2 linked regions of the Homo sapiens genome follow. The protein of the gene in region 1 interacts with the protein of each later gene in a biochemical or structural test. Each region holds a gene or a part of one and is shown in the gene's direction. Other genes may lie near its edges.

Region 1 (7,043 bases):
CTTCAAATGCATATTTTTCTCATAAGGAAGAACAGTAGGGAGCTAAAGGACTTTAACTATTTGAGATGCTACATACAAGTTCCTATAAGTTTCTGTCATTTTTTTAACATGCATTTTAACCTTACAGGTAGCAATTTCAGGTGTTAGAGCAAGCTAATTTTTATACTTTGAACTATAAAAATACTGATTTTAAGGTTATGGGCAGAGATTTAGGCAATACTACTGAGCACTGTTACATTTGAAGGATAGCAAATTAGATTTTCAGAAATTATGTGTTATGTATTCTTGTCTAAGATGAAGATGGCTTTTAATTTTGTTTATGTATTTACATGGAGTGGTTCATCTTGCATTTTTGTGATTTTTTTTTTTGGTAGCAATACCTTTTATGCTATTTCAGTGTTGATATAACTTTAATGAAAAAATGTGACTGTAAAAAGCAACTTATTGTGAGTTACACAGCATTAAGTGGGAAAACAAAAGCTACCTACAGTCCTAGATTGGTACAGAATATCTTGATAAAAATTTATTTTTCTCATACATAGGACACTATGTTAAAAACATTCTAAACTTAAAACTACTGTTATGTCTGCTAGTGACTTGTCGTTAGGTGCTTTGGTTGGTTTTTCTCCAGTGGAGTGTTTTTTATAATGTTTTTTTTTCTTTATATTTTAGCCAAGAGTCGAAGCTAAACCAGAAGTTCAATCTCAGCCACCTCGTGTGCGTGAACAACGACCTAGAGAACGACCTGGTTTTCCTCCTAGAGGACCAAGACCAGGTGAGTCAGCTCCTTTATAGCCTTTAGCATTTAACATTTGTAAGGCTGTAAAAGACTGAACTTAAACAAAAAACTATGATGCGTTCTATACACAGACCCATATAGTCTCAAATTGCTTAAAGATGTGATGTGAGCAACCTGCTAAATAGTGTCTGGGGCCAAATAACCAATTTTTAGGGAGGATTGGTTGACATGCCATGGTGACATATTTTGAAGGTGTAAAAGACTTAAGTCTTATTTGGTTATTGTCACGGTTTTTTGTTTTTTTTTTTTGTTTGTTTGTTTTTTTTTTGAGACGGAGTCTTGCTCTGTCGCCAGGCTGGAGTACAATGGCGTGATCTCAGCTCACTGCAACCTCTGTCTCCCGGGTTCAAATGATTCCCTTGCCTCAGCCTCCCAAGTAGCTGGGATTACAGGCACACGCCACCAGGCCCAGCTAATTTTCTGTATTTTAGTAGAGACAGGGTTTCACCATGTTGGCCAAGATGGTCTCGATCTGCTGACCTCATGATCTGCCCTACTCGTCCTCCCAAAGTGCTGGGATTACAGGCATGAGCCACTGTGCCCGGCCTAGTCACTGGTTTTAAGAGTTCAAAACCAAGCTGCCAATAACCTACTCTCTTAGCAGTCTTATCTCTTTACAGATAAACAATAAGCCCATTTTGATTCTTAGGTATTAAGTAAGTTGCCATGATTTTTGACTTGTTTACCTTGTTAGCTACACATGTAATACTTTTATTTGAACTCTGTAAGAATGTTTAGATTGCTTTGGGGAGGAGATGGGAGAGATGGAGATAGTATATATCACATTTACAATGTGAATTTTTAAAGTGATATGTTACCAAACTAGAAGTCCTAAATTTGTCAGTGATTAAACTTGGGATCTTGAGTGAAACCCTTAAATTCTGAGCTTCTTTTATGTCAAATATTACACAAATTATTCTTGTATTGCCTATTTTCCTCACTGTGTTCCTTGTGTTATTGGGAGAATCAAATAAGATTTTATGTATATCTATATACATACACACTTAATATGTATAGACTGCATAAATGTGATGATTGCTGTTAAAATTTACTGATTGCTGTAATGTCATAAAGCCAAAGAATTTTGAATTTCAAAAAACTAAGCAAATATTTAGTAAGCTATACCTCACTATCTGAAATCTGCTTGGTTCCTGGGTGATGGCAACAGTTTGGTTAAGGAGGAATACCTGTAGTACTAATATTTGATTTTTGTATAATCCAGTAGATCTAGAAGAAGCTATTTTAGCAACCTAGTCATTGTCCTCACTTTACATTTTAGTGTCATGCTGTTTTCTAACCTACTAGTAATAAGTACTTTTGCCTCTTTTTCAAGAAGCTCACCTAGTCTTATTAAACTAAAACAGGAATATCAATATTAAGTGATTTTTACATTCACTCCTTTGAAGTAGTTTTTATGATATTGTAAACTTTAGTATCTGCTCTATTTCTATTCTCAGGCAGAGGAGATATGGAACAGAATGACTCTGACAACCGTAGAATAATTCGCTATCCAGATAGTCATCAACTTTTTGTTGGTAACTTGCCACATGATATTGATGAAAATGAGCTAAAGGAATTCTTCATGAGTAAGTGATTTATTTTGCTGTTGGAGTTTTTAAATTATTTTAAATTAAGCAAGAGGCATATGGAGCTTTTTTAATAACTATTTTTTTTAAATGTTTCTCTCTTTATACTGTGTCCAGCTACCAGACCCACCTTAATTGTGCAGAAGGGAGTAGATGACTTATCTCACATGTTTCTCAGTGACTGCTTAGTGTTGATTTGGCCTGGCTCAGTAGTGTTTAGAAGAAACAGCTGGATAAATCAGTCATAAATTCAGAGATAAAGGATTCATTTGGCAAATGGGTCAATATATTAGGAGAAAATACATTGTCTTTCCAAAATTATGCAGTTAACTTTACTTATGAAAGGACTACCAAAGATGCAGAAAGGTAACACAGCAGGCGGGCAGGCTACTTGGTATCTTAGGGGATTGCCTGCTTGAGTAAACGTACCTTGGCTATCACTGTGTGTAGAAGCTTGCGAGTTTTATTTTAAAATGGATCGGGGAGATAACGATATTCATCCTGAACAATTAGAGCCATCAAGGTATTCTGTTAAAAATATTTAACCCTTGATGTAATGTATATTTTCACAGGTTTTGGAAACGTTGTGGAACTTCGCATCAATACCAAGGGTGTTGGGGGAAAGCTTCCAAATTTTGGTTTTGTGGTTTTTGATGACTCTGAACCAGTTCAGAGAATCTTAATTGCAAAAGTAAGTGATTTAAAGGGCATAATTCAAGACTTTATTATTTCTGTTGTATATATTAATTTGGGGTATTTAAAAACCATAGAAAATCTTTTAATAATAAAGCTAAAAATAGTTATTAAATGGTATTTATGCAAAGAATAAAGATTTGTTAGTTTGCAGATCATTTTAAATTTTGTTACTTGCTTTGCTGAAGAAGGTGGGAAAGATTGCAAGATTGCATGTTAAGAATTTTGGCTGGGTATAGTGGCTCACACTTGTAATCCCAGCACTTTGGGAAGTTAAGGCAGAAGGATTGCTTGAGCCCAGGAGAGTTCAAGACCAGCCTGGGCAACAGTGAGACATTGTCTCTACAAAAAAAGAAAAATAGCCGGCCATGGTGGTAGACACCTATAATCCCAGCTACTCAGGAGGCTGAGGTGGGAGTATCACTTGAGCCCAGGATGTCAAGGCTGCAGTGAGCCATGCTTGTGCCACTGGCTGTCACCAGCCTGGGTGACAGCTGAGACCCTATCTCTGGGGGGTGGGGGGCTGATAAAAGTGTTTTATTCCTTATGCTTATCTGACTGACCTGTTCAGAGTAATCATTTCTATTGCTGTCTAACCTGCCCATGTAAATATTTTTCTTCTCTTTTATAAAGCCGATTATGTTTCGAGGGGAAGTACGTTTAAATGTGGAAGAGAAAAAAACAAGAGCTGCAAGAGAGCGAGAAACCAGAGGTGGTGGTGATGATCGCAGGGATATTAGGCGCAATGATCGAGGTCCCGGTGGTCCACGTGGAATTGTGGGTGGTGGAATGATGCGTGATCGTGATGGAAGAGGACCTCCTCCAAGGGGTGGCATGGCACAGAAACTTGGCTCTGGAAGAGGAACCGGGCAAATGGAGGGCCGCTTCACAGGACAGCGTCGCTGAAGCTCCACTGTTGGCAAAGTCTTGGCAGTGGTACATTATTCATCGTGTTTGCATTCTTGTTAATTTTTTTTTTGGCTTTGGAATGTGACACAGCCTTTTTGATCATTTCTTTGATGTGAAAAGCATCTTTGGTTATCAGTTAAATTGAGGTGGACATTATTTCCCCAATTTCACAACAGGATTCACATTGTTAATTTATAAATCTAGACTTGGAGAATTAAGGACTGAGAAATGACCATATCTTAAACTATCTACGACAAAGTGAACTTAAAAGGACATGCCCACTGAATTCAGGTCCTTTGAGTAAAAAAAAAATCTTCTGCTGCACATTTTGTTTAAGTGTTACTGTTTCTGCCTGTTAATGCTGGGAACACAAATAGTGCAATTTGTGCAATTGGAGAATCTTGCCTTTTTTCTTGGCTCCCCCCAAAAATACAAACCAACAGAAACTTGTTATGCACTCATCAAAATGTACTAATGGGTACTCTGAACTCATTAACATTGACATCTGCAACAGGAGGCAACAGGGAAAAAATCTCATCTTCTTTTCCAGTAGAAAATAGTTTGTGAAATGATGAGGGCATTTTATCTGCTTGCTGTGACCAGCGTGTGTACACATAAACCTTAACAAGACTACAAGTATATTCCAGAAGGAAATCATTTTAGTTATGAACTAAATAATAAAAATTAGAACTTCAAATGCGATGGTCTTGACTATTAGACCAGATTTAGTAGCTCCATATCTAAGATTTTTCTACCTGCCCCTCTTCAGTACAGGGATGGCTGGCTGCTCAACACACTCCTCCTCCCCTTTTTTCCTTTCTTTAAGCTGTGTACAGTGAAAATTGTCTTTACTGTATTTTTGTTCTCTGGTAATGTAATAAGCATGATGGTGCCTTCTATTAATACATCATTCCAGTCTTGCTGGTAATTTTGTACAGTATAGTGTATGAATTGCTGTGCTGCAAAGCCAAACAGCTGCAAAATGTTGAAAAATCATCGAAATGTATAAAAATTGCAGTATCTTTAAAATCAGTAAAATGGACTAGCATATTATTTATCTTGTTCTTCAGTTAACAACTTTGTGTTCTCTGTGGGAGGGAGGGAGTCCTGTGTGTTTGTGGGGAGAGGGAAGGAGGAAGTCAGTTATTTGAGTAAGCCTCTAGTTGACTTTTCTCTTAGCCTGAATGTGGACGTTGAAACATATCACTTCAGGGCTTGGAAAAGTCAGTCAACTTGACGTACATTTTTAGTGACATTTTAAAAGCAGTCAGATTCTATAAATGGCAAGTAAGCCTGAAGTGAGGATACTGCAATTTTCGGAGAAAAGAACAGCAGCTCTTTAAGTGTTTGCATTTTCTATTTGGGGGGCAGGGAACTGTCATTCATTTTGCACAATTCTTGAACTGATGTCAGCACCCGAGTGGCTCCTGAATTTAAGTCTGGGACGACATCTTTTATTTTTACATGAATCTTTAAACAATTCTGTGAGCAAAGTTTGTAGCTGCTGGATTATTGTCTGTCTTTATAGCAAGTTCCAGTAAACCACAAGTATGGCAAAGCTTATCCAATTTTATGCTTGGAGCAGTCAGTACATACCAGTTTCTGATGTTTCAGGCAGGAGTGGGGTAAATAAGTGTGACCACTTAAAGCTGCTCGTTAGCATGGAAGACTTCTCCATTCTATCTTTGTAAAACAGACAAGATATGCACTTGACATAGTAGCAAATTGGTTCTGAATTATGCAACTGTTTGCTATTTAGTAAACTAGCAAATGATGCATGTATTTTGTTTTTCATGTACTGGGCAATATGAGTAAAATCTGTCCCTTTTTCCCCCTTTGAATGAGGTCTTCCATGTTTGAGGGAAAGTCTTGCACTATTGCATATATTTTGGGGACACAGATTTTCATAGTTTCCATTTTTGGGGGGCTTAAGGATTTTTTTTTTTTCTGTTTGAAACAGTTTTATACTTTCTGATATAGTACTTGAAATTCTTACCAGAAAATTACTTTGGAGTTTTGAAGCCTTTATTAATACTACTTTTAAAGAAGCAGTTGTTTTATTGTCAATGTTTTTTTTCCCCCAAGCATATTTTCTTGTATTTCTGTTTCCATATATATATATATATATATAATTTCCAATTCAGGATATTGCCCTGCCATCCATGAAAACTGTTCTGGCACCAAAAGTAATGACAAATGTTAAGTGTAATAATAGAAAAGTAGAGCAAAGAGCCATTCAGCTTCAGTCTTTACATACCATGAATAAAACATTAAAACATCATATGGAGAAGTTTACATGGTGATTGTTCACCTGCAGTACTGTGGAGTTTTAACATTTTGTCCTCTTTTCAGTGAAACAGAGTAAAAATATTCATCTACCATTACTGTTATTTGCTGATTTTGTTTTATTTTTTGATGGTAATATTCTATCCTTATGACACTATTGCAACCAAATTGGCTTTACCATCTTGGCTTTAGTAGGTATAGAAGACAATGGATTACCATCTTTATTGCTGTAATGTGTTAAGCATTATATGCTAGTAGAATCTAGTTTAATTGTTTCAGGTGGAAAGTATTCTTTGAGTTTCCATATTGAATGTGTTTGGACTAAACAAACAATAAACTACTGATGTCTGCAGCATTTATCTATGTCCCTAATTTAATCTATAGTTTTTATTGTTCCCAAATGTTTTCTCCCAGTTGCATTTCATACAAACTAAGTGGGAATAATAAGCAGTTGGGTTTTAAAACAATTTATTTGTGAAATTTGATACGTATAAAAAAAGTAAAACATTTAAGTAACACTTGACCATTGTAAGAGATCTATTCCGTCCAGTTAGACTGCTGGTATACAGGTTGAATGTTAGAATAATAAGTAGTAAGAATGATGAGAATGATCTAAAGCAGATTACAACCTTGGATTTTCTAAAGTATTTTCTGCCTTGCATCTCACAAGAAAGGAGAAGGGAAGGGATGAGAAGATTGAGGTTACCTGAAGTTAATGGACATGACTCAAGTTCAGAAATTGGAACTAATTTATCAAGCTCTCCAAAAAT
Region 2 (7,043 bases), on another chromosome or scaffold:
TGCGAGCCACTACACCCGGCTAATTTGGGTATTTTTTGGTAGAGACAGGGTTTCACCATGTTGGCCAGGCTGGTCTCCAACTCCTGGCCTTAAGTGACCCGCCTGCATCGGCCTCCCGAAGTGCTGGGATTGCAGACATGAGTCACCACGCCTGGCCTAGGATTTCTTCTTTTAAGGCTGAATAATGGTCCAGTGTATGTATATACTATATTTTGTTTATCCATTCATCTGTGGATGGACATACGGGTTGCTTATACCTTCTGGCTATTCTGAATAATGCTGCTATGAACATGGATGTATAAATATCTCTTCAAGATGCTGCTTTCAGTTCTTTCGAATATACACCCAGAAGTAGAATTGCTGGATCAAATGATATTTCTATTTTCAAGTTTCTGAGGAACCCACCATACTGTTTACTGTAGTGGCTGCACCATTTTACATTACCACCAACAATGCACAAGGGTTTTAATCGCTCCACATCCTCACCAGCACTTACTAATCTCCATACCCTCACCAACACCTATTATTTTGTTTTTTGTTTTGTTTTGACAATGAGAGACCCCCTAATGAGTGTGAGGTGTATGTTATTATGGTTTTGGTTTGTGTTTCCCTGATTACTAGTGACGTTGAGCATCTTTTCATGTGCTTCTTGCCCATTTATATATTTTCTTTGGAGAAATGTCTTTTTTTTTTTTTTTAAGAGACAGGGTCTCTCTGTTACCCAGTCTGAAGTACAGTGGTACAATCCTGTCTCACTACAGTCTCAACCTTCTAGACTCAAGCAGTTCTCCTGCCTCAGCTGCTTCAGCCTGCTGAGACTATAGGTGCAGACCATGACACCCAGCCAATTTTTTTTTTCTTTTTCATTTTGTTGGGACAGGGTCTCACTGTGTTTTCCAGTCTGGTCTTAGACTCCTGGGCTTAAGCACTCCTTCTGTCTCGGCCTCTCAAAGTTCTGGGGTTGCAGGCATGAGCCACAGTGTCCAGCCCCATGTCTTTTTTTTAATCAGGTTTGGTTTTTTTTGTTGAGTTGTTTGTATTTTCTGGATATGTCAGATACGTGATTTGCAAATGTTTATTCCCATTCTGTGACTTGTCTTTTCACTCTGTTGATTGCAAGCTTTGATGCACAGAAGTTTTAAATTTTGATGTGATCCAGTTTATCTATTTTTATTTTTGTCTCTGAATCATAGAGTTTTGAACACATGGCATGTATGCCTCTACACAGGTTTTCAGGTTTGTTTGTTTTTGAGATGGAGTCTCGTTCTGTTGCCCAGGCTGGAGTGCAATGGCACAATCTCAGCTCACTGTAACCTCCACCTCCTGGATTCAAGTGATTCTCCCACCTCAGCCTCCTGAATAGCTGGGATTATGGGCACCTGCCATCATGCCCAGCTAATTTTTGTATTTTTGTAGAGATAAGGTTTCACCATGTTGGCCATGGCAAGTCTCGAACTCCTGACCTCAGGAGATCCGCCTGCCTCGGCCTCCCAAAGTGCTGGGATTACAGGCATAAGTCGCCTTGCCTGGCCAGGTCTTCAGGTTTTATCCTGTCCTTTCCTCTTTTTCCATTTCCTTGCAATACCTTCCCATTTCTGCCTTTGCTCAACTTTGCTCCGCCTGGTGAACTTTAAAGCTCCAGTTAGAAAGCTCTCTGGAGGGGTATTTCAGCAGAAATTGTTTTCATAGGTGTAGTCTCCTACAACTATAATAGAAGTAGTCACACTGTGTCACTTATTATACTAAGTCCCTAATTCTGTCACCCTCAATTATGAACTTTTATGGAACAGGAGTTTTCTCTATTGCCAAGTACCCAATATCTGGCCCATAGTAGGCAATCACATCTGTTAATGGAATAAATAAGTGTGTCATTTTTATTCCTCAACTTTTTAACTTAGCACTGACTTTCTTTTTCTTTTTCTTTTTTTTTTTTTTAAATGGAGTTTCCCTCTTGTTGCCCAGGCTGGAGTGCAGTGGGGCAATCTCGGCTCACTGCAACCTTTGCTTCCTGGGTTCAAGCGATTCTCCTGCCTCAGCCTCCCGAGTAGCTGGGATTACAGGCATGCGCCCCCATGCCCAGCTAATTTTGTATTTTTAGTAGAGATGGGGTTTCTCCATGTTGGTCAGGCTGGCCTTGAACTCCTGACCTCAGGTGATCCATCCGCCTCGGCCTCCCAAAGTGCTGGGATCATAGGTGTGAGCCACCGCACCCGGCCTCTTTTATTTATTTATTTTTTTGACGGAGTTTCGCTCTTGTCACCCAGGCTGGAGTGCAGTGTGCAATTTCGGCTCACTGCAATCTCCGCCTCCCAGGTTAAAGCAGTTCTTCTGCCTCAGCCTCCCCAGTAGCTGGGATTACAGGCACCCAGTAGCTGGGATTACAGGAGCCCACCACCACTCCCGACTAATTGTGTGTGTGTGTGTGTGTGTGTGTGTGTGTGTGTGTGTGTGTGTGTGTGTGTGTGTTTGAGATGGAGTCTGGCTCTCTCACCCATGCTGGAGTACAGTGGCACGATCTCGGCTCACCACAACCTCTGCCTCCCGGGTTCAAGTGATTCTCCTGCCTCAGCCTCCAAGTAACTGAGATTTCAGGTGCATGTTAGCATGCCTGGCTAATTTTTGTGTTTTTAGTAGAGACGGGTTTTCACCATGTTGACTAGGCTGGTCTGGAACTCCTGATCTCATGATCCAGCCGCCTCAGCCTCCCAAAGTGCTGGGATTACAGACGTGAGCCTCAGCCTCCCAAAGTGCTGGGATTACAGGCGTGAGCCTCAGCCTCCCAAAGTGCTGGGATTACAGGCATGAGCCTGTAATTAGACTGCACCTGGCCTAATTTTTGTATTTTTAGTAGAGACGGAGTTTCCCCATATTGCCCAGGCTGGTCACAAACTCCTGATCTCAGGTGATCTGCTGGCCTCACCTCCCAAAGTGCTGGGATTAGAGGCGTGAGCCACTGTGCCTGGGTCAGCACTGATTTTCGTGTCTAAACTCAAAAAAAAAAAAAAAAAAAACCTCTGCTCCCACTATTTTTTCCTTTCTTCTATATAGAGAAGAGAACACTCAGTTTTACAAACCAAAAGAACCCTTTGGAATCTTTGTCACCCTCGTTTCAGTCATTGTTTGCTCAGAGAGCTTTCTTCAGTGCAGCAGCAATAAAGCCGTATATTCAAGATTTACAGCCAGCCTTTGCAATTCCCTTCGCCGACTGCTCAGGATTTAAGGAATGGTTCTTTCATTCTTTAGGTCTCTGTATTCCTTTAGTAAATGCTAAAGCATTTACTAAATGCAAAAGCTAATTATTTAAATTTAGTAAAAGTAGCATAACTTTTGAAAAAGGGGGGCTAGGGATCCCCCTAGGCTAGAAGAGTTTGATTTATTGTTACTTTTGGGTTGATGGCAGCCTTTTTGGTGAGGTCTGTGCTGGAAAGCTAACTTGTACCATTAGACCTCACTAAATGCTTTCCTAAGTGTGAGGAGGTGATACTTAAAAAGACTGGAACAATTTTATACCAAAACTGGGACATGGATGTGCCTTCTGCAGTTTGAATATAAAAGAAAGTCATTTTTGTTTTCTTTCCAAGGCCATGGAAATAGCATCTCAAAGGACCAAGGAAGAACGGTCTAGCCAAGATCATGTGGATGAAGAGGTAGGATTTATTATCTATTCACAGCCTTTGGAAACACTTGTGTTTTGAGGGTTTTTTTTTTTATGTTGCTAGAGCATAAACTTGATTTAAATAGATAAGCAGCTTTTTCAAATGATGGTAATATTTCCTTAAGATATATTATAGTAAATGATTTAAGTGAGCCAAGTTGGATAGTTTACATTTCACTGTATTGGTCCACTCAGCAACCTGTTAGCCCATTGTCCTAGATGGAGAAAATTTTTAAAGAGCCTGTTAGGATATAGGCGTCAAGAAGGAAAAGCCTGTTTTTAATTTGCAAATGTGAGTTTTTAAATGACTTAAATATTGATTCTAGAAATGTTATAGATTTTAAATATTATGCTTTGATAAAAACGAGTCAGGGTGTTTTTTTGTGAAGGAGCCATAGTAGGCTTTTAAAAAAAATTCTCACAACTCTTAATGGTTGACTATGAGGTGCCCTGTGTTTGTCGGCAGCTCTCCACCTTTTTCACTGTAGCAGCTGGGTATGTTTCGTAAGGCATAGCCAGGCAGCGCTTGCCAACTGTAATTCCGCCCCTTTCCCTCCTGCTCAGAAAAGCTTTTTGGAACAAAAATGAAGGAGAAGTGTTATTCTAAGGATAATCTTGAATCAGCTCTAATGTTTTTTTTCCCTTCCTTAAAATAAATCATATGCAAAATTTAGTGTTCTATCATTAGTAGTGTTACTTTTGGGACACCACATCACAGATGGGATACCAGTGTGTGCAGACAGCTTAGCCAAGCATCAGTGTTAGGGATGAATGAATATATAGATTCCCCTGTAACCTGATGGAGGAGTATGCTGTGTGAATGTGAGAAGTGTATGAATAACAGTTTTGATTTTGCTTTTCCTCTCTGTTAGGTGTTTAAGCGAGCATATATTCCTAGAACCTTGAATGAAGTGAAAAATTATGAGAGGGATATGGACATAATTATGAAATTGAAGGAAGAGGACATGGCCATGAATGCCCAACAAGATAATGTAAGTAGCTTGGTTTGTATATAGCAAGCAGCTCTTCAAAAGTAGTAGGGGACTGTCCCAAACCTATCTGGGCCTTTTAAGTTCCCCTAATCTTGAATATTGGCTTCTGAGCTAGTGAAATGACTAACTCTATCTGTGTTAACTTGTGTGCACATTGAACGCAAAGGGAATTATTTGGAATTTATGAGAGGAGGTAACACATTTGAATGAATCCAACAAGCTGTAATTGTAGAAACAAGATTCAGATAGAAGTCTAGGCTATTAATGGTTATTATATTAGGTCCATTAACATATATTTCTTTAACATACATCATTCAGGAACAATTTCTTTTTGGTGAAGGGTCAGATAGTAAATATTTTAGGCTTTGCAAGCCAAGAAACAAAATTGAGGTGATTACGTAGGTCCTTATGTAACAAGAGAGAAAAAAATTCACCCTCAATTTTTATTCGTGAAATTAGAAATACTTTAATAATAGTTGAATACACTTTTGTGTAATACAAGTATACTAAAGAAGAGTGGAATTATTTGATGTGGGGCAGATAATATTTCACTTAATTGGGGCTCAAAGTTTGTGTTTGCTATCTTCAAATTGATTGCAAATGTTTATCTGTAAAAACTACCAGGTAGGCTGGGCGCAGTGGCTCACACCTGTAATCCCAGCCCTTTGGGAGGCTAAGGTGGGCGGATCACTTGAGGTCAGGAGTTCGAGACCAACCTGGCCAACATGGTGAAACCCTGTCTCTACTAAAAATACAAAAATTAGCCAGGCATGGTGGCGTGCTCCTGTAATCCAAGCTACTGGGGAGGCTGAGGCACGAGAATCACTTGAACCCGGGAGGCGGAGGCTGCGGTGAGCTGAGATTGCGCCATTGGACTTTAGCCTAGGCTACAGAGCGGAACTCTGTCTCAAAAAAAAAAAAGGCCCAGTACGGAGGCTCACACCTGTAATCTCAGCACTTTGGGAGGCCGAGGTGGGTGGATCACCTGAAGTCAGGAGTTCGAGACCAGCCTGGCCAACATGGTGAAACCTCGTCTCTACTAAAAATATAAAAATTAGCTGGGCATCGTGGCAGCTGTAATCCCTGCTACTCAGGAGGCTGAGGCAGGAGAATCTCCTGAACCCCAGGTGGTGGAGGTTGCAGTGAGCCAAGATCGCGCCACTGCACTCCAGCCTAGGCCACAAAGCAAGACTCCGTCTCAAAAAAAAAAAAAAACAACTACCAGGTGGCTGGTTGGATTTGGCCAGTAGATCTGGTAGACAGAAATAATATCAATATTATAAACTTCCTGTGTTACAGTGAGATTAATTTTAGATACCTTTTTATAATCATAGGAGACATTATTTAACCCACATTGTTCTTAATAGTGCAATATGCATATTTCATTGTCTAGTTTTATGTTGATCCTTATTTTTTTTTTTTCATTTTGGTTATAAGATTCTATACCAGACTGTTACAGGATTGAAGAAAGATTTGTCAGGAGTTCAGAAGGTATGAAGAACATGTGTTACTGTTTGTTTATGTGAAAACAGTTTTAAAGGATATAAACTCTAGTCATACTGTTTTTTATTATTATTTAATATTATTAGAACTAAATGTTATTTTATATTGTTAAAATGTTATAATTGCTTTCAAAGTCTGTGGACATCTTCAGAAATGCCATTTTTGTGTTCTTTCTAAACACAGCACTGAAATTTGGAAATTAATTTATTTTTCTTTCTGTCTCTGAATTGTTCAGTGATTGCAGGTGAGGTATTTATCTTTTTGTATCCTGGTCGTCATTTGTGGAGCTCTTAATGATAGCCATTGTGCTTCTTGATGGTTTTACAACCAGCTTAGGAGAACTTTGGAATGTAGTCTCCTACCAGGGTATTACTTGTTAAAGAACAATCTCATGAGTTCAGCAAGTCCTGCTGTGCTGGATTCCTGTGATGTTCTTTTTTCTTAAAACAATCTTGTTTTGTTTTACATTTTAGAAGGGCAGGGATTAAGTAATTCTAACTTAGGCAGTCATAAAAGCAGTCTTTATTTTTTTAAATCTTCCTAATTGAAGACTTAAATAAAGGATCACAGTTTGCTTTCTTAAAATCATGTCTTTTCTGTGGAAAGAATTGAATTAGGGGAATTCTGGTATTTTGCATTTCTGAGTTATAATAACAGGTGTCATAAGGAAGTTATGCTTTGGATTCCAGAGCATGAAGATTTTATTGCAGCAAGCTAGAAAATCTTGTTGTACAATTGACTTCTAAAGATCTGTTTTTTTCTTATAAAAGGGAAACCTCACTCTTAAAAACTGCTAGGAAGCGCTGTATTAGACAACTGCTGAATTTCAGGAAGTAATGAAAATTTCTCTTCTTCACATATTGTTTTCCCTCCCAATTGGATTAGTTTATTGC

The links.
Region 2: the proteins of G3BP2 (region 1) and RIOK1 form a complex in vitro, tested with the Homo sapiens proteins (one study listed by BioGRID).

The regions. Positions count from the first base shown.
Region 1 is NC_000004.12:75,642,371-75,649,413, reverse strand, and holds the end of G3BP2 (ras GTPase-activating protein-binding protein 2), read left to right. Parts: intron 1-672; coding exon 673-775; intron 776-2,256; coding exon 2,257-2,385; intron 2,386-2,957; coding exon 2,958-3,076; intron 3,077-3,711; coding exon 3,712-3,984; 3' UTR 3,985-6,628; downstream 6,629-7,043.
Region 2 is NC_000006.12:7,406,805-7,413,847, forward strand, and holds part of RIOK1 (serine/threonine-protein kinase RIO1), read left to right. Parts: intron 1-3,581; coding exon 3,582-3,647; intron 3,648-4,527; coding exon 4,528-4,647; intron 4,648-6,084; coding exon 6,085-6,138; intron 6,139-7,043. UniProt on the Homo sapiens protein: Involved in the final steps of cytoplasmic maturation of the 40S ribosomal subunit. Involved in processing of 18S-E pre-rRNA to the mature 18S rRNA. Required for the recycling of NOB1 and PNO1 from the late 40S precursor.